Linked DNA regions of Homo sapiens: all the other regions are linked to region 2. The links come from fine-mapping of genetic effects on gene expression. A gene starts in region 2. Each other region holds a variant in brackets. All regions are shown on one strand. Distances are from middle to middle. Region 1 overlaps GLIS3 (GLIS family zinc finger 3). Region 2 holds the start of GLIS3 (GLIS family zinc finger 3). Region 3 overlaps GLIS3 (GLIS family zinc finger 3).

Region 1 (8,185 bases), 450 kb after region 2:
TTCAGTACCTGTAAGCCAGCCTTTCCAGTCTATTTTGTGTGATTTTTAATAACCACCCAGGAGCCTATAGCCACACTGAACTGCCTGCCTAAATTTCCTCTTGATATTTTATTACTGCTGTAATTAGAAGGTATCAAAGATTTTCAGTGGTCTGACCCAATTTTAGATTTCTCAAAGACCTTATTTTTAATACACATTTGTGCAGAGGACAAGATTTTTCGGGGTTCATTTATCACGTTACAGCAACCGCACCAACAACCCCAGTGTGCAGTTTACTCTTCTCTCATGACAAGATGTCTTTTTTTTTTTTGAGATGGAGTCTCACTCTGTCACCCAGGCTGGGGTGCAGTGGCGCAATCTATGTTCACTGCAACCTCTGCCTCCTGGGTTCCAGCTATTCTCCTGCCTCAGCCTCCTGAGTAGCTGGGACTATAGACACATACCACCATGCCTGGCTAATTTTTTGTATTTTTAGTAGAGACGGGGTTTCACCATGTGGGCCAGACTGGTCTTGAACTTCTGACCTCAAGTGATCCACCCGCCCCAGCCTCCCAAAGTGCTGGGATTACAGGCATGAGCCACCGCCCTTAGCCTTCTCTCATGACAAGACGTCTAACAGGAAACAGTGCAAGGTGGAGAAGGAGCCTCACAGAGTCAGCAGTGCCCATGCCTCCTCCCAACTTTGTGCTTTGTCATTGTTAACAGGTGGCTTCCATCCTCCTGGTCACAGCATGAATGCTGATATTCTACACATCTTGTCCCAGTTTCAGGCAGAGACGAGGGTGAAGAGTAAAGGACAAGCGTACTCTTAGTCACAAGGCAAAGGGGTCAGGGAAGATGGATATTTTAGCGCATTGCCATACTTAACAAAACGGAGATTCCGTTCACAGTTTTTACTGGATAGGCACACCGGAGGGGCTGCCAAACACTCTAGGATGGTTTTCTAATCTGTAAAATGGGACTAATCACAGACAGATTCATTCATATCCTTCCTTGGAAGTCGGGGTAGACTACCCCATGTTTTCCCATCTCTTCCATTCTCTTAGGTTTCCGTACTTTCCACTGTGTGCTCTTATTTTGCATCCCTCTGGAGTTTCCAGTTGCCAACACAGAGATTTCTGTCATCCATGTACCACTTACTAGATTTCGTTAGGAAAACACCATGAAGCTACCTCCTCAGCCTGGGCTGTTTGAAATCAGTGCAGCAGCAGTGGGAAGGGGGCGCCCTCCCTCTGTTGTTCACGGCTCCTGTGGTTCCTGAGCTGTCTTTCCCATGATTTAAAGCATGCCCTGCCTGCAGGCTTCCTAAAGCAGGCCAGTCAGCTCCCAGACAATGGTGGCATTTTCTTACCTCAGTCTGGAGCTGTAAGCTTGTCAGTCCAGTTCAAATTGACTGCAACAAGAAACAAAGGGTTTCCAGCCACCAACAGGACTCCAAGAACAAAACACATTGTAAATGGCTTGTCCCACCAAAGAGCCAAAGCATCTTTCAAACTGTAGAAATATCAGAGCATTGATATTTAAATGGCAGCGAGGTGGCAAGTACAAGTTTAGCTAACTTCTTCCTCAGTTGGCTGTTTACTCACAGTGATTGTGCAATGGTACTTTCCAGCAAGATGCCTATGGGCTGTAGCCATGACTGATTTCGCTGCTGCCAATTTATAGTGTTAAATATTTAAAGGTTATTTTTATTTTTATTTTATTTATTTATTTTTTGAGACAGAGTTTCGCTCTTGTCGTCCAGGCTGGAGTGCAGTGGGGCGATCTCGGCTCACGGCAACCTCCGCCTCCTGGATTCAAGCGATTCTCCTGCCTCAGCCTCCAGAGTAGCTGGGATTACAGGCATGCGCCACCACGCCCAGCTAATTTTTTGTATTTTTAGTAGAGACGGGGTTTCACCATGTTGGCCAGGCTGCTCTTGAACTCCCGAGCCCAGGTGATCCACTTGCCTTGGCCTCCCAAAGTGCTGGGATTACAGGCATGAGCCACCATGCCCGGCCTAGAGGTTGTTTTTAAAGGCTGATTTTAAAGACAGTAAACACTCCCACAGAAAATTTCATCATAACTGCATATATGAGGTTATGAAATAATAAAGCAGTAAGTCAAGAAATTGTATTGCTTAGAACTTAAGCATTGTGTCACATCTTGAAATCCCAGAAAGATAAATATAATTGATTATAAATCAACATTGTAATAGATTTCATGGAGAAAGTTGTGACATATTCACAAAAGAAATGAGCCGATGAGTGAACTTCATGTTATTCTGATGTTATCATCAGCAGTCATAATCAGGAATAATTTTCCATATCAGCCATGATGTTATTAACGCTTACACAGTACCAGGGATTGATGATTAGATTTGGAGAAGTCCTTAATTACTCTCATATACTTAATTACTACAAAATTACCCCAAGAACAGTTTTACATAAGTAGTACTTGAGAAATTCAGACTGTGTTCTAATTCTAAAAAACAAAAGTTAATTTTAGGTGTATATGCAGAGTGCAGTAAGCATTTCAACATGCTGAGTTTTGTGGAAGGGGTGTGAGATGGTCATGTGAACCAGAAAAGGTGTTGGAATGATTGATTATGGAAATGACTGAACTGTGAATAATCTACATATATAACTAAGCATCTGCACACACAAGCATGAGTGCATGTGCACCCACACAGATTAAACTCACCATATTAATGTGCTATGTTTGATGAATATGAGTATTAAATGATTGAATCAACTATTGCTAAATTGTAAGTCTCAGGACAGGGACTACATTGTCCCACAATATTCTGCACACTGTAAGTGCTTAATAACTGCTCATTAAATAAATACGAATGAACAGAAAGAAAAGACAAGAATAAAGGGATTTTTGCTTATGGCTTCTTAGACTGATTGGCAGAGCCAGTCCTTGGCAAAATTGTGACTTACAGACAAGTTTATCTGGGCCCCTCTTTTCTCTGGGCACTTCCTGCCTGTTTCTCTGCCCCCTCTTTATTTTATTTTTTTTTATTTATGTATTTATTTAATTTTATTTTTTCTGAAACAGAGTCTCATTCTGTCGCCCAGGCTGGAGTACAGAGGCGCGATCTCGGCTCACTGCAACCTCTGCCTCCCGGGCTCAAGTGATTCTCCTGCTTCAGCCTCCCGAGTACCTGAGATTACAGGCGCTTGCCACT[G/A]CACCTGGCTAATTTTTATATTTTTAGTAGAGACACCGTTTTGCCATGTTGGCCAGACTGGTCTTGAACTCCTGACTTCAGGTGACCCCCCTGCCTTAGCCTCCCAAAGTGCTGGGATTACAGCCATGAGCCACCTCGCCAGGCCCTGCCCCCATCTTTAAATACCCAGTGCTTACCATCTGCCTGAGACCTCTTCCCAGAGGAAATAGGATGAACTAACAATTCACTTACACATTGAGGTAAACTTAATATATTACTGCTTCTTGTCAGTATCTGCATAATAAAAGAGGATACTGAGACACAGCTGGTACTGAGTGTGTGGTAGTAAAGTTCTGGGCCATGGCAGCCCTGTGGAAGAGGGATTGTGAGGAATTCACAGTGCCCATAGATACCAGTCCTTTGCTTAAGAAAACATTTTCAGTTTGGAGGCAAGAAGATGGCAGTTACTAACTGGAATCCTATGAGCAGGTCATGCAATGCCCTGATTCTGAGGTTCTCAAGTTTAATAGATGATACTGACACCCCTGTTTCAGACTTGGCACAAGAATGAGAGAATGCCTGGACTACAGTAGATGCTCACGTCATTGCAGCTGTTATTGTTATTTTTCTACTGTGTATCAGATACCTGGTGCTCTGAGCAAGTCCAGAGCAACCTCCCAGGTGAGACAATGGAAGAGCTTAAGTACCATGCCCTAACTCATATACCTAGTGAGTATCAGAGGTGGTTTTATAAACCCAGTCTGACCCCAAAGCCCACAATCATACTTTGTGGTGGTGCCTACTGATACAGTATTATGGAAATTTTTAGTTACTTGGGAATTGCTTTTGCTTGAAAGTTAAGTACGGAACCATAAATATGCGGTTCCTTATAGGGTTAACATTCTGCTGTCAGTAGAGGTGCTGTGATTTGCAAGATGAAGTCATTTCCCACCAACTGCTTGACTGCATGTCTTTGGACACTGATAGCTGAAAAATCACTTTTTTCTGTGTCAGGCAGTGTAGTGAATGCCTGTCATGCCCTTGCTCACTAATCCTCCATAACAACACTATAAAGAAGGCATTGTTTACTCCCATTTTACAGGTGGGGAATCTAAATCACTGTGGTGCCCAGAAGTTTTAAATCTTGAAACAGTGGAGCTGGAAATTGCACCCAGGACCATCTGACTCCAGAGTTGTGCTTTTAGCCATTCTGCAATGCTGCTATTAAGCCTTTGATTGGGGGCTGTCCCCATGGGGAGGGGAGAGCTCTCTATCTAACGGCTCCCAATGGGATTACCCCACTGTGTGTGTGTGTGGGTGTGTGTGTGCGTGCGTGGGCATGCACGTGTGTATGTGTACATGCCATTATGCACTGTGCTTGCTCAAGTACGGGTATGCTGGGGGAAACTTTGGAAGCCTAATTACTATTATAAATCAACAAACCTGGGTTCCTGGGCTTTTAGCACAGTCCTTACATACAATTTACAAATTCTTACTGACTTTTTATATTATAAAAGAAAAATTTTCCTTGTTCAGTTTTTTAAAGTCCTTACAGTACTGAAACTTATAGTTTAAGTCCCCTCCCAGCCTTATGTTTGCCCCAATTCCACTGCTCAAAGGTAATGACTATTAAAAGATTGGCAAGTATTCTTTTAGACCTTTTTAAATGCTCATAGAAGGAGACATAACTGTGTCTATGTATATGCCCATATGCCCTGTTATAAAAATGGCCTCACGTTCTGCACCTCACATTCTATATTTTGTTTTATGACTTGATTTTTTTAAACTTAGTCAAATATATGCTTTTGCTTTCCAGGTCATTGCATATAGAGTCTTCTTAATTGTACAGCTCTCATAAGAATAGGTCATCATTTTTTAAATCATTCCCTTATTGATGAACATTTTTTTCATTTTTTACTTTTTCTAGCAATTCTGTTAAATCTCTTCATATATATATGCATGTTTATATAAACACTCCTGTACACACACACACACATATATATATATCTTTGCACAGTTTCTTAGGAAATATTTCTAAAAGAGAAAATGCTGGATTACTGAGTTGCACATTTTAAAGTTGGATAGGTATTGACACATACTCTTTTAGGAAGGCTATACTAATTTAGACTCTCATCAGCAGCACATCACAGGGCCCATTTCCTCACACTGAATGTTAGTATTTTGCCGATTTGTAAAGCAAAGATTGGTGACTTGCTTTAATTTTTCCTTTAGCTAGTAATGTAATTGAGCATCTTTTTATATTTTCATTGAACACTTAAAGACAGTATTAATAGTAACAGGGATTAAATAACAAGAGCTAGGACCTGGGTTTTTACATTATTTAAGTATCTTTCACCCTGTCAGTCAAGCTGTGTCATTTGCAGCAAGACAGTTTGTTTTCCTGATTGGAACTCAGAAATTTATTGATGAGAAAGAAATATCCAGAAAAATCCCTTATATCATTGACCATCATGACTTCGTCAGTCAACTTAAAAATGCCTATAGAAAGTGTTTAATTAATATTATTATAGACTTAGCACTTTTTCTTTCTTTGGGGGAAGTAATGACATCTTTCTAGAAGCAAATGTTCTTATACCTGAAACTCATGAAGTTGGCCTCTAATGAAGGGAACTCTTAAAATGAATTAATTGTTTTTCTGATAACACTATTCTAGGCGTTCCTCTGTTGGACTCTTCAGGGCTAAACATGTTAATGACAATCTATGTCTTATATTTCTTATATTTTAAACTGGAATTACCCTTATAAATATGGTAAACAATTGATGGTTTAGAAGAAGAAAAAAATGTAACAGCTATAGATGGAGCTTCCTTAAAATACATCAGTGAACATCTGGGTTGCTGGTAGCGAGGCCACTCTCTTCATAAAACAGAACAACAAAAACAATAGAATGCTAGAACTGGCTTGATCTGTCCCCATTCACAGCCTCTGAGCTCAGCAACATGTTACAAAACAATCCCAATTCCCTTAAAATTTCTCGTTGGTTTACGTAGAATTGTGAGTGCTCTTTCTGATTACAGGAATTTCCCCTCTCTAACCAGATTGTTCAGACTAAACTCTTTATGTCATTCTTTCGTGAGGTCTTTGAGAACTAGGCCTTACAAGATGTAAGTCTATTGAAATAAAAACATTTCGGTATTTTTTCTAGTTCACTTAAGTATGACTACTGAACCCTCCCTTCTTACGTTCATCACCAAACCCAACCTCATCTCACACATCCCAAAATAAGTTCTTAAATTTCCTTGCCATTGTGACAAAATCATTCAGGGAATCTGAATTGGCCAAATAATTACCCAAGGTTCTTTGCATCTGTGGATCTGGGCTGATGTGGTATTTTTGTCAATACCCATGAGGTCAGTGGCAGTACCTACATTCATATATCAATATATGTTTTATAAATCACTCTTACATACATAATTTTTATCAGTGCCTAGTAACTATGGGTATACAGAAATTGCCCAATAAATACTTGTTGGATGAATGCCTGACAAGATACAAAGGCAGGCTTCCTGGTAGCCAGATGGAGATAACAGAGATCCCGGGATCCAGTGATGTATGTCAGGTTTCCCAAATACAACATCCACTTTCCTATCTCAAAGCCACTTATATAGGTTTCCATACTCTTACTTCAAGCCCAAATGTAATCTTAACATAATGTTCCAGAGAGTAGGTTTTGGGGAAGCCTAACCATATATAATAGAGACTCAGCTATGAAGCAGAGGTTCGGAGGGAAAAATAATTGAGTCATTGGATCACTGGCAAGGATGAGGTAGGGGCCCACTTTTAGATTAGAGTGCTGGAAATTTGTGTAATAACAGACTCGGATTCGAAGAAGCAAAAAATCACCTAGTTAGTAAAGCGGATGTAATGTGGGAGTTTGGTTACAGCTGGACAACAGAAGTCTAAGCCACAAGATCAGTATGGGACCAACAGTGAGAACAAGACTTCTGAGTCACTCAAATTAGGTCCCATGATTTCACCTTGACCAAGAACTGACATGTGAGAGACAGGCATTGGGAGAGAGAGCCAGGCAAGTCATCTGGATCCATATCTACTGAGAGTGTAATTCAAGGCCCTTTTGGAACAATCATCACCACCTTATCCCCAAGAGCCCCATCTACCAGCAGAAAGGGCTGGGAGCCTGCCCAAGGGGAAGAGATGCCCATGGGAAGAACTCCCTCTCTCCATTTCAAATGAAATTAGAGCCGTTCTGTTGTTGTTTTAAATTGGTATTTCACTTGGAAAACTTTCAGATGTTTGTAAATCATCTAAAGATGTTCTCTTAGAGCCTCTCAAACTTTTAAGAAATACCTTATTAAATATACAGAATTCCAGGCACTTCTTCCAGAGTCGGCCGTAGAGCTCAGGAATGTGCATGTTCAACACACATGCCAAGGTGGAGCTGATGCCCCCCAACCCTGGTAAGAATCATTGGCCTAGACACCAAGTGTAGGGCTCAATGCCCTCTCACCGTGGCTCCCCAGTCGGAGATAACCCAAAGGAAGCAATTTGCCTGTGACTCAAGAGGTTAAGACTCTCTAGCTTCCTCCTCCCTTTATCTCTTGGGGAGGTCTTTTTGAGACAGAGTCTTGCTTTGACCCCCAGGCTAGACTGCAGTGGTGTGATCTAGGCTCACTGCAACCTCCACCTCCCAGGTTCAAGCAATTCTTCTGCGTCAGCCTGCCGAGTAGCTGGGATTACAGGCACCCACCACCATACCAGACTAATTTTTGTAGTTTTAGTAGAGACAGGGTTTCACCATCTTGGCCAGGCTGGTCTCAAACTCATGACCTCGTGATCCACCCATCTCGGCCTCCCAACATGCTGGGATTACAGATGTGAGCCACCGCACCCAGCTGGGGAAGTCTTTTAAAAAGCTATAGAACCAGGCTGGCTCACACAGATTTCAGGGGAGGCTGAAGGGAATTGAGATGCAGCAGCACTTCCTTTTAGTAATCCATGAAATCTCTGTCTGGAATCTTCTCTGCCGGATCTTTCTTACAGCAAAGCTTAGTT
Region 2 (8,185 bases):
CTGGACTGTTGCCAGCTCGTGTGTGTGTGTGTGTGTGTGTCTGTGTTTTAATAGCTAGGCATACTATCACTGGTGCTATTAGCTCAACTTATCTGTATTTTGGGGTTCAAATTTGTTTCTTTTCACGGACACTTTGTGGGAGGAGGAATCTGATCATAGTTCTTTGCAAGTTTGTAAGTGGTTTACTGTCAGAGCACTCAGGGTGACTCAAATAGCAGTTCTGAAGTTTTGCTGTCAGGATGTTCCTTCGGGAGAGTTTCATTGCTGTGAGACAGTGGATGTTCCTATTTTGTACTCTAGCTTTGAGTGAGCTGCTTGCTATGCAGGACTTATGCCTTCTGTGCCCCTTTTGATGCTGATTCCTATACTTGAAATGGTCTCCTTTGCTTATCACTTCTCTACTCATTCTTTGAAGTCCAGCTCAAACAGCCAAGCTACTCCATGTCACATTGCAGGAAATTATTCCTGCCTCCTCCACACTCCCTACAAACTTCATTGTGCTCATCTAACACTGACCACAAGATGCTTTGCACTTTATACACCTGCAATATGTTTTATACACATTCAAAGAGCATGCACAATTATTCTGTAGTACAGTAATGTTGATTGAACTTGGGGCTTCTAAACTGGCATACTTGGCTCTGTCTCTGACTCTCTTTAACTGTTTACTGAGCTTCAACTTCTTTGCTTCTAAGTAGGAGATTATTCATAGCCACATCATACATTTGATTTGAGAATTAGATGAGGTAATATATGCAAAGAGTCCCCATTTCTTGAGGGTTTGCTACAACTAAGACACTGGGCAAAAAGTTTTCTGTAATATCCTCCCATATACAATGCCTACAAGTGTTAATTCCTTTAGTCCCAATACTTGGACAGAGTGTGTACTCACTGAATATTTCTCTGATGAATGAGAACTGGACTGGAGCTGGCAGCAGGGGCCTGTCTGCTGAGTCAGCTGCCCTGAGTCAGCGGTTGAGGCACATACAACACTGGTCTCTAGAGAGGGAAGATACTGACTGGGCTGCAGTTCCCACCTATCTGGCTGAAGGGCTGCCAGAGTATGATTCCTAAGCACGATGGAGAGCTCATGGGTAAGGGAGAGTATCATTTTGGAACTACATGATTTCCTTTCTCACTGTCTCTCATTACCACCCTCCCTCACCCCTGCTGACCAATTCAGCCCAGAAGAGGTACAGATCTCATTCTGAGTCATTCCAGGGTTGTACTGGTACAAGAACAACTGCATTTTTACTATAACCCATGGAATATAAGAACATTGCAGATCTACATTCTTGGCCAGAAAAAAAAAAAAAGAAAAAAATTCAACCAAAGCACTATACCTCTTCAGTGGTAAATATTTTAGGAATGTTAGAGGTTCATGAAAATCACACCTAAATAAAATGACATTCCCACTCTTGGGCTCTTATAAATGAAGAGATTTTGGGGATCTCCAGGTTGATGACTCCTAACTTTCCCAGTGTTTTTTTCCATGAGCTATTGATTAAAGTTGGGTGTAGCACTATATTTTTTTCTCTTCCAGCTAAGCTGTTCCCATCATTTGGGAAGTTTTAGAAGCTTCTGCAAGCCCCTAGGATACCATTCTATGCATCAAAACCATTGTATTTAAAATGATATTTGAGGGACATTGGAAAGGTTTTTTGCAGTCTCCACCCAGGCTTGTCTTGCTCCTGGGAAGCAGTTGTACAGCACAAGAATCTGATGAACAGAAGTTCCCATGATGCATTGAAGGGTTAGTGTTGCCATCTTGCTCTGTTCCTTAAGGCTGGAGTTAATGAGGAAGAGTTTTTATGTGAATGTCAGGCATGTTGCAATAACTAGCCACAATGGAATAGTCATGGCAATTTCCACCACTTGGTTTCTTTGTTTTTGTGATGTTGCTGCATGCTTCATTTTATGAGTATTTTCTTTTCTTACGTGTGGTTGAGCCCATCTATTGCCATCTTGGGCTTGAATACTTGTATTTAAAAGAGATGAACAGAGAGAAACTGGAAAACTGACAGAATGACATATCCTGACCTCTTACTATTTTTCATCCCCTACTTCTGCTGACAAATATTCTGATGAGTTTGTGTCCCAAGGTGAAGGAAAAGAAAAGAAAAAGTACTGTGGAAACCAGGCTTCTTTTGGTTATGTTAATATCATGGATACAGACCAAGCCTAGTAGTATTCCCACTGAAATTAGATAAATGAAAACTGCCAATAGTCTTTTAGTTTTGGCTTTCTGGGGTAAGTCATTTGTGTCCTTGAGGACTTCTGTCTTGATCAAAGCATCTACTACCTGATTGCTAATTTATATTGGAGTGGTAACAGTAGAATAGAATATAAGGACTTGTGAAATTCTAAGTGTCTGGTGGCATCCTCACTCATTTCATTCATGATGGTGAATAATACTGTCAACTGCAGAAAGGCCTACCTGGAGGATATTGTGTGCATTACATACCTAGATTCCCAAGATGGAAGTCCTTGCATCTGTGGCAATACATGTGATGAACTACTAGGAGCAGACTTTCTTGTAACAACCTTTTGAGGGCTCTGGTCAACACAAGCAGAAGCGGTGGCGAGTCAGAGCTTAGGTGGGGTATGAGGCTGAGGATGTTGAATTCATAAGGATAAAGTGCCACTTTATAGACGTAACATACGCAGGGAATATACCTCCATTCTTAACAGCCTGTGTTCAGAATTTTATACCCTTCTAACACTTCCATCACCTTCCTCTCTTCCCTGCCTATACTTGGAAAGGATGCCAAAGCCTTCCTTAGTGCTTCACCTATCCAGTTTCGAAGCTGTCATGTGCATCCGATCCGATATTTCAAAGCAACCCTTTTGCCATTTTTCACTGTGTTATTCTCTCCGTATTACTACCGGATTTTTTTGGTTGTTTGTTTATTTTTTTATGACCTGACATCAAATCCTGTCTAAACACTAACACTTTTTCATGTTAAAATAAGTCAGTTTAACAAATAAGGCCAGGAAGAAGGCGAAGTGTCTCCCTGCTGTTACCCTGTTCTGGAGTTCCTCGACTTCTGGCGCACGGGGAGTGTGTGTGTGTGTGTGTGTGTGTGTGTGTGTGTGTGTGAATGCGTCAAGAGGGAGACACAAGCTCGGCCTTCGAATTGGCCAGCCTAGTGACCCGCGAGCCCGCCCCCACTCTTCCCCCTCCCCCTCCGGCGCTCACACTCAGGAAGCAGCTGGCTACAGGCCGGCCCTCGCGGCCGCACACACATCCACACTCCTCGCCCGGCTGCCTTCCTCCCTCCCTCTTCCCCCTTCCCCTCTCCCTGCAGCCGCGTCCACACTGCGCCGCCCGGGCAGCCCAGAGCGCGGCGCGCACGGGCACCGGCGGCGAGTGCCGCGGCCACTGCCCCTCCCGGGACCCCCTGTACGCCGTCCGCGCCGTCCAGGGTCACACCGGCGACGGAACCCGCCGGCAGCAATTAGCCAGCATCCCGGGGTCGGCCCCCAGAAGCATTCCCCGGCCCAGGACGAGGATGAACAGGACAGGCGAGGCACAAAGTCGCAACTGAACTTTTTAGAAACATTATTTGTGTGTGTATGTGTGTAGCAGGGGAGAATGAGCTGATGCCGAGGGTCCAGCCACCCCGCCTCTGCCTCCTCCTCCCCCTGCCGCCGCTGCCCTCGCAGACGCGCGCGCACACACGGCACTTGGGCCGGGTTTCCGCGCTCCGTCCCCCCGTTTGGATGGGGGTTTTCATTTCCGAAGGAGGCACAGCCCGCGGAGCGCTCTGAAGGGCTGGAGCCCCAAGTTACTCCTCGCCAGCGCCGGCCGCCCGCTGTCACTCGCGCTGGCCGGCCGGGGGAAGGGACCCGCACGCCGGGCTTTGTTGTGGAAATCCCGGTTACCTGGTAAGTGGATGCCATAGGAACTTTGCTCGCAGGCGAGAGACGAGGAGAAACCGGGCGCTTGAGAGTGTGGGGGAGTTAAAGCTCAGAGACGCAAACTAGGGATTACAAATAGTTTTCTACGCTGAGCCGGTGGCGTTCGCGCGGGTTTAAGGATACGCGCACCTCAACTCCCGGCGTCACAGGTCACTGAGAGACCTGCGCTGACTGAGACTGATAGCAACAATTAGGGTTCAAACCATGTTTCTGTCAGTGGCCTAAGAGCGCCCAGTGTAGAAGACAGATAACGGGGCTTTAAAGTTGCGCTAATTCGGAACAGTTTTTGTGTTTTCATTTCAAGTAGAGCGGGCAGAGGGGTACACAATCAGGGCACGTTACAGGACGCACGGGCATGGGGCGCACCACTCTGGAGTCCCCACTGAAGGGAAACTTTGGCGAAGTGGGAACTGATGGGGTGACGTGAGGTCTCTCGCGCACACGCGGGGCTGTAGTTGTCTTTTCAAGTTCCACGTGTTTGTGGAGTTTCACGAAGGCTGTTTTCCACGCCTGTGTCTCATCCAAGCCGGTGTCCCCATGATTGCGGGAGGTGGTCGGGCTGAGGGTACCTACACTCCTCGCGGGTACCGGCCCGGCGATCCGCAGCCGCCAGGTCTGGAACTATAACCTCCCACGCCGCCAGGACGCAGACACAGCCAGACACGAACCCTCCCCGCCGGGTTCGTCACCTCGCGTTTACATTTTTTATGGGGCCCGACAAAATGTCAGCACTGTTTGGAAAATGTCTCAGTCTCGGAGACGTTGTCCTGCGCGCGGCTCCAGTCCCTATAAATGACCCTGTGTGTATTTTGAAGTCGGCCCGGGTCGCTCTCTGGAAAGCGTGAGTGAGCCGCCGGCTCTCTCCTAGACACACACCTTGCCCCGAGCGACAGTTCCAAGTTACTCACTGGAGCTGACAAGTCACCTCGGGGACCGGGAAGTCACTCAAGTGTCTGGAAATCTTGGCCCTGGCTGATTTGTCATCCTATGGATGATTCAATTAGGTACCTGGCGGGAGAAACTTTGGGGAAGGGTTTCTGGCTCCGCGTTCGCGCCCTCCGACTTGCTGGAGGTGTTTGGGAGGCGAGAAGCGAAAGGAAACCACAGGGTGAGGACACTGGCTCGGCGGGGACCGGGGGGCCGGCGTGGGGGGACTGCGAGCCCGGCCGTGGCGCCCCCGGGCTACAGGCTCCGGCCAGGCCGGGCAGCGCGCGCAGGTCCCCGGCGCCCGGGCTTCCCAGCCGCAGCACCCTTTCGGCCCCCGACTCACTCAGGAGCGAGTTGCACAACAGGAAGCCGGCACTAGTTTGTTTTGTTGCGCTGCGTTCGCTCCCTCGCTCGCTCGCGCACGGGGCCGAGGGTTAGGGGCGGAGGCGGCGGGGGAGTGACGGGGTCGCAGCCGCGCGTACCCCGCCGGGCGCTGTCGCCTCCGCCTCCGGACCCGCCCCTAGCTCCGCGCCGAGGAATCTCCGACCCCGGCAGCGAAGCCAGTCCTATAGGGAACCGATAAGGGCCGCCCTCCTCCTGCCTTGTCCTACGCGCCTCTCCCCCGCTCCCGGCACCTCTCCCGACTTCTCCAGCCCTCCTCTTGGCAGGAGTGGTCTCGAGGACTGAGACCACTGCTCTGTGTGCCTCCTTGAGCCCCACGCTAGTTTGCCCCGGTATCCGCTTGGCCCTCATCTCTGGAGCATGTAAACCTGGGGAAGGGGTAGGGAGGTGCTTCCGGAATCACAGGGAGTAGGGTCCGTAGAGACAGGACTCGTGGAGTCGCGGCCCCGTTTCACAAAGAGGGTTGCTCTTGCACCCTCTCCCCGAGCCGGCAGAACCAACTTCCTCCAAGACTTCAGCATCTCCCGAGAGTTGGGGCCCCAGGGCCCTGGAGTTTGTGAGAAGAGGGAAGTTCTGCAGCTCCCCCCAGTGGACCAGGTCCCTTTAGTATGGGGCCGGGAATCTCGAGGAGAGACTATTAAAGCTAGAGTGGACCCTGGCTTCACCTGATGAGGAAACCGAGCCCCAGAGACGTTAGAGGTTTTGCCCAAGGCCTCACAGCCAGTTGTCGCAGACCCTTAAAGTTCTCAGGTCCCGGTTAAGAGAGCATTTCTTGGCTCGAAGATGACCTCAAGACAAATGCAAAGTCTGGTTCTGTCCCCTCTGAAAGCTTTGATGAGTCATGATTTCTGCCTTGGGAGTAAGCCAGACTTCTGTTTCACCCTCTGTCTTGTTCCTCACTGGACCTCCCTTTTTAGACTAAACTTTTTTTTTTTTTTGGGTACAAAATCGACTTGTGTTGGTTTAAACCTTCCTACTTCTTCTCTTTTATCTCCTCCTAGTTTGTTTCCGCTGGTTCTGTGTGAAGCAGGTGCAACCTGTAAAGGTTTGCAGAAAAAGAATCCGCCACGATGAAGGTCGTTCTGAGAAAGTTTGAAGCAATTTAGACAGGAGAGTGTTAGATTATATGCATTTTTTTTTTTTTTTTTTTTTTTTGCAATTGAGAACAAGCTGAGGTGTAAGGATCATCTATAACCGTACTGCAGTTTTCATTTATTTTCACTGGTCATCTGCGCAGCCAGACTAGCTCTGAGGCTACCTTTGAAAGGAAGTGTAGGGGACATTTTTTTTTCGCTATTTTCAAAACACCTGTCCTTATTGGTAGTTTGTAATTGCTTTCTTTTCTTGCCCAGAAGACTCAGTAATCCTTGAGTATGAGTAGATCAATTTAAGTGCTGCTGTTAACTTCTCCCCTTGGTTCACCTTAGGCCAGTTTGGGGACAGCATCGTTGATCCCCTGATTCCACTGAAGTTCCTTAGTAGGCAGGTTATCAGAGGTTGAATACCTAGGGTTTGTTGGTTTGCTTGGAAGAAGTGATCATCACTTCAAATAAGAAAGGCAATCTTTATTGGGGTGGTGGATGAACTCCAAGGTCCACCTAGTGGGTGAATTTCCTACTGAGCTAAAATAGCCTGGGTAGGAGAGGTTAAATAATACCCAGAAAACGTTTTGTATTAGCCCTGCCTTCATTTATGCAGGAGAAAGTGGTCCTTCTGCCATTCCAGAAGAGAGCTCAGTGTTCTCGGTCTTTTTTTTTTTTTTTTTTCCTCTGACTGTTCTTTCCTGCTAGTAAATTAAGCCTGAGGACATTCATTCTTTCCACTGTTGTCTCTCTCATATTATAATTATTGATCTTTGGAGTTGGAGTGTTAATTTACTCTTCTCCCAGATTATAGAATACATACTTCTTGAAGGAGATAACTCAGAGTGGCGTCACATGCACATTTCTCATCTCTGGAGAAGTCATTTTCTGTGTTTCTGTGATTATTTTCTGTAGAGGGCATTATATTGTAAATAAGGTGGAAATACAGGACTTAACTGTTTTACTTTTCCCTAAGTTTGGTTGGTTCATAGACTATCAGGACTGGGGAAAAAAGGCACATAGGAAATCTGTGTGATAAAAAAAAAACTTGTTGCCATTCTCATTCAAGGAAGATGACACATAACAAAACCTTTGAAATGACATTGATACATAGTTTGATTAAAAGATGTCCAAGTCCCCAGTTTTTGTAGTTTCCCACTTACTTTAGGCAGAGTTGACACAAAAGCCAAATTTTCTATTGAGATGAAATATCCTTACGGAAAAGCACACTTATCTTGAGCTCGATGCATTTTTTTGCAAGTGGAACACACCCACATAACTAGTCTCCAGATCAAGAAACAGAGCATTATCAACACACCAGAAACATCTCTCACACTCCATTCTAGTTACCACCTCTGCCTAAGGTAACCGTTGCCCTGGTTTCTAACAGATATATTAGTTTTGTCTGGTTTTTTTAAAAAAAATCTTGTGTAAATGGAATAATTCAATATGCACTCTTGGGTCTGGCTTCTTTCGCTCAACACAACAACCTTTTATTAGGTCAAATAATTTGGACTCCCCCTTTAAAGATGATGGAAACAGTCTGGCTTGCAGAAATTAGTGAGGCATTACTTAATATGATAGAATTAAGGAAAAACACTAACCAAACTGAAGCCATATTTATATTCTGATGACAGTCTGGTTAGGGAGACCAAACAGACACAAGTGAAATGTCTAATGTGACACCAGTGTAGGAAGCAGGAAAATTCAGAGGCGTTCCTTCCACTAAGGCAACCCAGAGTGTATTTCACCGTCCTTTCGTGAGGGCCAGCAACCCCCATAATAAAAAAAAAAGTAAGTGCCTGGTTTCAGTATTGAACTGTTCATTTGCAACTTTTAGCTGGGATTTTTCA
Region 3 (8,185 bases), 210 kb after region 2:
TCTCACCAACACAGTATATTAGCAAGATTCTGATATTTACTAATCTGGTAGGTAAGAAATGTTTGTCTTCTTAATAATTTGATGACCCAGCTTGTTTTCCTCAGTTCCTCTCGTTCCTGCTTTCCTCTTCTCTTCCATGTTCCACTCCCATCTCTTTCTGTCTATCATCAGGTATTTTTGGTTGAGATTTTCACGTGCTTAAAGCCATTGATTGGGAAGCATCCACGGAACAGATGATCTGGAAGAACCCAGAGTTCAGATATTTGCAGGAAACTGAATTCAACGAGGATGATGAAAAAAAGCAATGAATCACTCTTAAGAACTAGACAGCAGCAAATTATCGATTCAATACACAGTTGACCTACAATTCCACAGTTTCTGAGATGAGGTATTATAAGGTGAGACCTCAGGGTTACTGAAGTATTGATAAGGCCTTCTGGTCAACTTGTCTTGTCATAGCCAAAGAATACATGTTTGGCCTTAAATGGCCTAAAATTTAAAAATATATATATAGATATTTAGCAGCATGAAATCCAGCACACATAACTGCAATCTAGAAGAGTTGCAGATACACAAATCAAACTCAGCCAGTGGGTTAGCAAGGAAGCTGAAGGTGCCTTGTCCTGTGATAAGCTTCCTCAAGACCAGTATCCAGTCTTCTGAGTATTTATAGCCCCTTATCATACCACTAGAAGGCCAAGCCCATAATAAGCATTTGCTCCTTGCCAGTTTAAAATGTGCTAGAAAACCAAGTGACTTTGGATTTAGGGCCAGCACCCTGAGTTATTTTTAAGCCTTCAGGCCACCCTTCTGTTCAGGCTTTGGCTGAATAGCCCCTGCCAACCCGAGGGAGGAAGTACCGAGTCTCTGAGTCTGCTCTCCTCTGTCTTCCACATGCTTTGGTTCTTCCCTTGTGCACGCTTTGCAAGAGGGGGCCTTACTCAGTGCAAACACTGGGGGCAAAGTGACTGGCTCTTTTCAGTATTTTTCCAGCAGGAACATTCATTCATTATATTAACTTTTTTTTTTTTTTCCAGGCAGCATAGCATAGTGATTAAGAGCGTGGACTCTGGAGCCAGACTGCCTGGATTTAAATCATGACTCTGCCACTTACAGGCTGTGAGGCCAGCATGTTACTTTTCCACTTAGTACCTCATTTTTCTCATCTGTAAATGAGGATAATTAAATATACATGCAGGCATGTGCCACATAACAACATGTTGGTCAAAGAGTGGCTATGTACACATACAACAGTGGCCCCATAAGATTATAAAGGAGCTGAAAAATTCCTATCACCTACTGACGTCATTGCTAATGTCACATCATGGAGCAATTCATTATTCACGTGCATGGGGGTGATTCTGGTGTGAACAAACCTATGTCACTGCCAGTTGTATAAAAATAAAGCACATATAGTTATGTACAGCACATAATACTTGATAATAAAAATCTGTGTTGCTGTTTTATGTATTTACTATACTATACGTTTTATTATTATTTTAGAGTGCTTTCCTTCTGTTTATAAAAGAAAGTTAATAAAACAGCCTCAGGTTGCTCCGTCAAGAGGTATTTCAAAAGAAAGCATTGTTATTATGGGAGATGACAGCTCCAGGCTTGTTACTGCCCCTGAAGACCCTCCAGTGGGATGAGATGTGGAGGTGGAAGACAGTGATATTGATGATCATGACCCTGTGTAGGCCTAGGATAATGTGTGTATTCATGTCTTACTTTTCAACAAAAAATTTAAAAAGTTTAAAAAAATTTTTAAAAGCTTATGCAATAAGGAAATAAAGAAAGGAAATATTGTGGTGCAGCTGTACAGTGTGTTTGTGTTGTAAACTGAGTGCTTTTACAGAAGAATCAAACAAAAAATAAAGTTTATTGGGAGGCTGAGGCAGGCGGATCACGAGCTCAGGAGATCGAGACCATCCTGGTTAACATGGTGAAACCCTGTCTCTACTAAAAATACAAAAAAATGAGCCAGGCATGGTGGTGGGCGCCTGTAGTCCCAGCTACTCGGGAGGCTGAGACAGGAGAATGGTGTGAACCCAGGAGGCGAGGCTTGCAGTGAGCCGAGACTGCGCCACTCCACTCCAGTCTGAGCAACAGAGCGAGACTCTGTCTCAAAAAAAAAAAAAAAAATTGTAAAACAGTTACAGTAAGATAAATTTATTATTAAAGAAAGAAAAATTTTTAATAGATTTAGTGTAGCCTAAGTGTACAGTATTTGTAAAGTCTACAGTTGTGTACAGGAATGTCCTAGGGTCTCACGTTTCTCAGCACTCACTCACCCAGAACAACTTCCAGTCCCACAGACTCCATTCCTAGTAAGTGCTCTATACAAGTGTATCATTTTTTTTTATCTTTTATATGGTATTTTTACTGTACCTTTTCTGTGTTTGGATACCATACCATAGTATGTTTGGATATGTTTAGATACACAGATACTTACTGTATTATTCTGTTTCTCACGCTGCTATAAAGAACTGCCCGAGACTGGGTAATTTATAAAGAAGAGGGGTTCCGCAGGGCTGGGGAAGCCTCAGGAAACTGACAATCATGGCAGAAGGGAAAGCAAACACATCCTCCTTCACATGGTGGCAGGAAGGAGAAGTGAGAGTCGAGCGAAGGGGGATGCTCGCCATACGTACACTCTGCTGTTTATACAACAAAATCACCTAACACATTTCTCAGAACATATTCTTGTCATTAAGCGACACATGACTGCACATTCATACTTATGTGGTTGTGTGTGTGTGTGTTTGTGTGCACGTGTGCGTGTAGTCTAATGAAGTGCCTGACTTATGGTAAGTGATCTGTGTTTATTATTATTGTTTTTATTTTTATTTCCACTAAGGATAAATGGAAAATGCTTACCGTGTACCAATCTTACAAACGTTTAATTATTTTTTTAACTTAATTTTTTTTGAGACGGGGTTTCACTCTGTTGCCCAGGCTGGAGTGTGATGATCTGATCATGACCCACTTCAGCCTCGAACTCCCAGGCTCAAGAGATCCTCCCACCTCAGACCCCCAAGTAGCTGGGACTACAGATGTACACCACCACGTCTGGCTAATTTTTAACATTTTAAAAATTATTTTTGTAGAGATGGGGTCTCACTATGTTTACCAGGCTGGTCTCCACCTCCTGGACTCAAGCCATCTTCCCACCCAAGACTCCCAAAATGTTGGGATTACAGGCATGAGCCACCATGCCCAGCCTCAAACATTTTATACATACTAACTTTACTTGCAACAACTTAATGGATATCATCATCCCCCTTTTTATATATGGACACTAAGGCACAAAGAGGTTAAATACATTGCTCAAGGAACTTACCTAAGTTAGAAAATGGCTGAGCCAGGGTTTGCAGTCAGATTCTAGAACCTGCAGTTGTAACGACTGTGCTATGCATGAAACTTCTCTTGCAGAATGTACAGTCTAGTGACTCCAGCATACCAGCAATAGTAATAGTCACAACCTCAGCAGTAGCAGTT[G/A]ACAGAGGGTGTGTTTTGTGCTATGTTTACCACTTCACGTGCTTAAGCTTATCTCTTCTTCCCTGGGCCTTATGAGGGAGCTACTACTAGCGGAAACTAAGGAACACTGGATGCCGTGGCCACCAAGTGGTGGAGCCATAATTTCAGCCTAAACCTGTCTGATTCCAGTGTCCTTGCCCTGAATGCCACCCTGAGCGTTTCCAGTTGGGATTCTGTGTCTTGGACCAGGTGGTCCAACTGCTATGTGTTCAGTGGACTTGGAAGCTTTCCCTTTTCTTTCCGCCCTTAGCTTTGTCTCACTTGATTCTGCCTGGAGAGCCTCATTAATTTTTTTTTTTTTTTAAACTTTAAGTCCCAAAGAAGGCTAAACTACAGATTCTTTGTCACATCCTGGGTACTGTAACCAAGTCTTATTTTGTTTTTATTGAGCGTGAATCAGTTTTAGATCCTCGAGATGAATGAATTCAAGGGCTTTTCTTAAACTCAAATCAAATATATATTGAGCCAGGACCGCAGTTTGAATCTGTTGGGCTGTAGGCAGGAAGGCAGCACTAAGGAGAAATCTAGTGTTTCCCAAAAGATAATGAGGACAGTGGGCCTGTGTAGAAGGGAAGGGGCAATGCCAGTCACCTGTGTCACAACTCTGCCTAAAATGGGTTTTAGGGATGGGATCCACTTCTGGGACAAGTGCTTTGACAAAGCTGGTATGGGAATAGGAATCATACCCCCTGCAGTCCCTGTGAGCCCAGGCAGGACAACCCACTGACACAGGGCAGAAGGGAGCAAGCGAGGAGCAGAGTTCTGGACATTGCACCCCTCTGCCGTGGGCATGGCACACAGTGGGAGGCACCACTTTGTCTGAACAAAAATAAATACTCCTCTTTATGATCACCCGGAAATGTGGATTTTTCCCTTTGTCACTGTCTAATTAGTGGAGACACCTGAGAATTCAATTTTTTATGGGTTTTTGTTGTTGTTTTTGTCAGGGTCTTGTTTGTTGCCCAGGCTAGAATGCAGTGGCATGATCGTAGCTCACCATAGCCTCAAACTCCTGGACTCAAGCGATCCTCCCACCTCAGCCTCCCAAGTAGCTGAGATTACATGTATACACCACCATGCCTGGCTAATTAAAAAACAAAAATTGTAGAGATGGGGTTTGCCCAGGCTGGTTTCAAACTCCTGGCCTCAAGAGATCCTCCTGCTTGGGTCTCCCAAAGCGCTGGGATTACAGGTGTGAGCCACTACACATGGCCAATTTTTTATGTTTTTAACATTTTGGCAATGTTCTTCATTAATAATTCCTCAGCAATTTTATAATAATAATATATTTTCCTTTTTTCATATTTATGTTGATTGAATTTGTAAGGTCGTGTATGTAAATACACAGTTTTTTATTAACATACACACACATATACATTTTCTCTTAAAACGTTTGTAAAGGAAAAAAAAATGTTATCCACTCTTCAAGATGAGACTGTTTAGACATCTTCATTTTTCAGTTTTGAGATATACCAACATTAAACAGCAATTTTCAGAGGTGATACGTGTCTTGTTAGTACTGTTCCATTTATACAATGGATCAGTGCATCCCCACAAAACCTGAGTTTAAACTTCCACACTGCAGTTGAGACAGACATGAATATTTGGATTATTAAGAAACATAAAAAACTAGGCCACATCAAAATATTTGGGACTAGTTCATAAAAAATAAAAGTAAAGCAAACATTTACAGTTTGTTTTAAAGCAAGTTGCTGGGGAAAGTCTTTCTACCAGCTTTGTTTTAACACAGCTCATGGATATAGATGTTTCTGTCAAAATTAAGTCATTGGTAACTCCATCTGAGGAGCTGTCTATTCCATTTTTTTCTCGAGGAATGAAGACAGGCCTTTTGGGGTGAAGCCCTTTGGACTGGCATCCTGCCATGTAGGATTTTGGCTGTGAAGTATCTCAACTTTTGAAAAGAAATATCCATTTTGGCCTTGGCTTTAAAATGTGGGACTTCATAAATGTGAAACTACATAATTTTATTTCCGTCATAGTAAAAGGCACTAAAATTTACAAGGAATGCCACGCTAAACTGTAGGTTCCTTGAGGAGAAGGGACAAGGTCACATTTATTGCTTTACTCTCTGGCATTAGGAATACATCCAATATATAGTTGGTGCTCAGTAAATATTTATTGAAGTGAATTCCATCTACAATGGGGATTAGCCAGTTTTAAGAAATAAGAAGATAATTTTCCTGTGAATTTTGACTTGTAATCTTTCAAAGTTGGTTTAAGGACAGACACAAGATTAAATCACTTAGGACCAATTTAAGATAAGGAAAATAAGGGAGGATTGTACTTCTGTTGGCTGTCATTCATCTCTCATTTCAGTGGGCACTAATCAAATGAGAACATTTATTTTTCCAACCTTTCTCTCTTCTTTAATTATTGGATTCACCAAATAATTATTAGCCTAAGCATATGTTTTATGCCAAGGATTGGGCTAGACCCACAGGACTGCAAAGGTAAATAAAAACCAATGCCTTCTCCCAAAAGGAGGCAGGTCGGTAAATTAAATTAAGTGTGGCAGGTGCCCCGATAGAAGGATTGAGGTACATGATACTAATCTCTCTTTTTTCATCTCCTTTCTTTCCCTTCTTCTTTATTCTTTCTCCCTTTCAGAAGTTGAATTCTTGTAGGTTATGTTGGGGTTGAAGACAAACCCAGATCTGCCATGGCTATCCTCACACCTTGTCTAGCCAGTGAGCTGAGTTCGACTATGGCAAAGGCATTGAGGAGTTGTTAGTGCATGAATGACATGTGGAGTCTGTCTAGGGAAGTCTAAAGTTCATTGGGGGCCAATCCATGTACATAACTAACCATAATGCGAGATGGACAATAGAAGTGAGGTAACCAAGGTATGGATAAATTCCTGTGTTGAGGGGCCAAAGAGAATAATTCCTTGTGGCTGTGAGTGGGAAGAAACTGAAGGCTTCATGGAGGAAGCGGTCAGGCCTGGACTGTGTAGCAGGATTGGTACCTTACCCTTAGTTCATGTAGGAATATGAATACTAAAAATTTCAGTATTAGGTACTCAATGAATATTTTTTCACCGATATGAATTTTATGATGATGTACCACCTTTCCCCCTTAAATCTGTTGTTTTTTAACTTTTCATGTGGGTGTTAATACAACTCTATTTTTAAGCTCTATGAGGCCAGAGCCCACATCCTGTACTTTTTGCTTTTCTCCATATCATGGGGTTTTCAAACTGTTCCCTGGCACTAAAGACTCTAGTTGGGGTATTTTCACTGGAGGAGGGAGGCCTTAGATCTATCAGGAAATTGCCGATTGTTTTCCTGTTTTGTTTATGAGGCTATCATTTCAGAATCCATTTTCCTTTTCTTCTTTCATCTCAAAACTTTTTTCATCTTCACTCAGTAGTAGCTCTGTACAGCTTTGGATGTGCATCTATTTAAGGCTCTCACTTGAAAGTATGTTTTGCCGCAAGTGGAGAAGGAATAATAAATGTTTATCCATGGCCTAAATAAGGGATGAAAAAACAGCTGATACATTTTTATAGCTGTTCTACCTCTGTACTCATCTGACCATAATCACCTAGTATTTATTATTATTACTTATTAGTAATATTTTAGGTTTTGTCTTCTTTGCCTCCACTTCACATGATTTATTGGCTGCAAACAAATATAGTTATTCCTTTTATTTTCATTTCAGACTTTGCCATGTTTTCAGGGCCAGTCCAACTCAGTTAAACAATTACAAGTTGACTGCCACATGTACACATAGCACTAAACTAGGATTTTGTAGAGGATGCAGAGGTGAAGAGTAGGGAGCCTCTGCCGTCTACGGGTTCAAGGTCCAATGTGGAGGACATGTCTCTAAATCATGCCGTTATCAGTTAGACTGTGGAGAATGCTACAACTGAAGAACAGCAAGGCTCTGTGGGACTTGAGGGGAAAAAGAGATTAATCTCCACAGGGGTTATTCAAGTTCATGGCTCTCTCTAGTTAGTGAAGTTGTTCATGATGCTGAAAGTCCCTCCTGTGCACAGTGCCCGGCACATGCTGTAGAGCCTGCTCAGCACTGTTTTGACAAGTGGTACATTTACATGGTAAAAAAATCTAAAACTCTCCAAAAGGACATACAGTGGAAAGTCCGTCTCTTAACACATTCCGTCATCCTTCCTCTCTGGAGACACATGCTTTTCACAATTTCCTGTGTCTGACTGATTGTTAAAGATTTGTTTTCTGGAAGATCCTTTTTCAATTTTATTGAATTCACCCCAATGTAATAAACATTCTGCATATGTGCCAGGTGCTGTGTTAGGTCGTGGGAATACCACGAATAGGATCCTGGTCTCTGAGAGCTCACAGTATGATATACATAAAGTTATGGCTTGGAATATGACATATTCAGCGATGTGATGGAGATATGGGGAAGTGCTGTGATAACTCAGAGGAGGGAATGAATGACTCATTGCCCCAGGGTGGGGTTGGGGAAGTTTCATAGAGGTCATGATTCTTCAGTTGGGACTTGGGGGATGAGGATTTCACTAGACTGAGGTGGAGACAAGTAAATTACATGCCAAAAGAGTGATATGTTCAAAGACATAGAATACTGAAAATACATGTCTGAGTAGGGTATGTGCAGTGGTAGTTACATCTGGTGGTTGAGGTCAAAT

What was found. PIP is the estimated chance that this variant, and not a neighbour inherited with it, causes the effect.
Region 1: its variant is the best candidate, but not a certain one, in a credible set for the expression of GLIS3 in thyroid (GTEx, PIP 0.52).
Region 3: its variant is the best candidate, but not a certain one, in a credible set for the expression of GLIS3 in adrenal gland (GTEx, PIP 0.73).

The regions. Positions count from the first base shown.
Region 1 is chr9:3,842,034-3,850,218 of GRCh38, reverse strand. All of the region lies in intron 9 of GLIS3 (GLIS family zinc finger 3), which reads left to right. Among named protein-coding and RNA genes, the nearest start is that of GLIS3-AS1, 53 kb to the left of the region's middle. The variant G/A (reference allele first, on the strand shown) is at 3,173.
Region 2 is chr9:4,295,124-4,303,308 of GRCh38, reverse strand. It overlaps GLIS3 (GLIS family zinc finger 3), which reads left to right and starts at 3,241. Exons shown (of 11, transcript NM_001042413.2): 1 at 3,241-3,888. It overlaps GLIS3-AS2 (GLIS3 antisense RNA 2), which reads right to left and starts at 4,008. Exons shown (of 4, transcript NR_186824.1): 1 at 3,886-4,008. RefSeq lists an enhancer at 5,946-6,240.
Region 3 is chr9:4,086,110-4,094,294 of GRCh38, reverse strand. The region is part of intron 4 of GLIS3 (GLIS family zinc finger 3); the gene reads left to right. Among named protein-coding and RNA genes, the nearest start is that of GLIS3-AS1, 190 kb to the right of the region's middle. The variant G/A (reference allele first, on the strand shown) is at 3,499.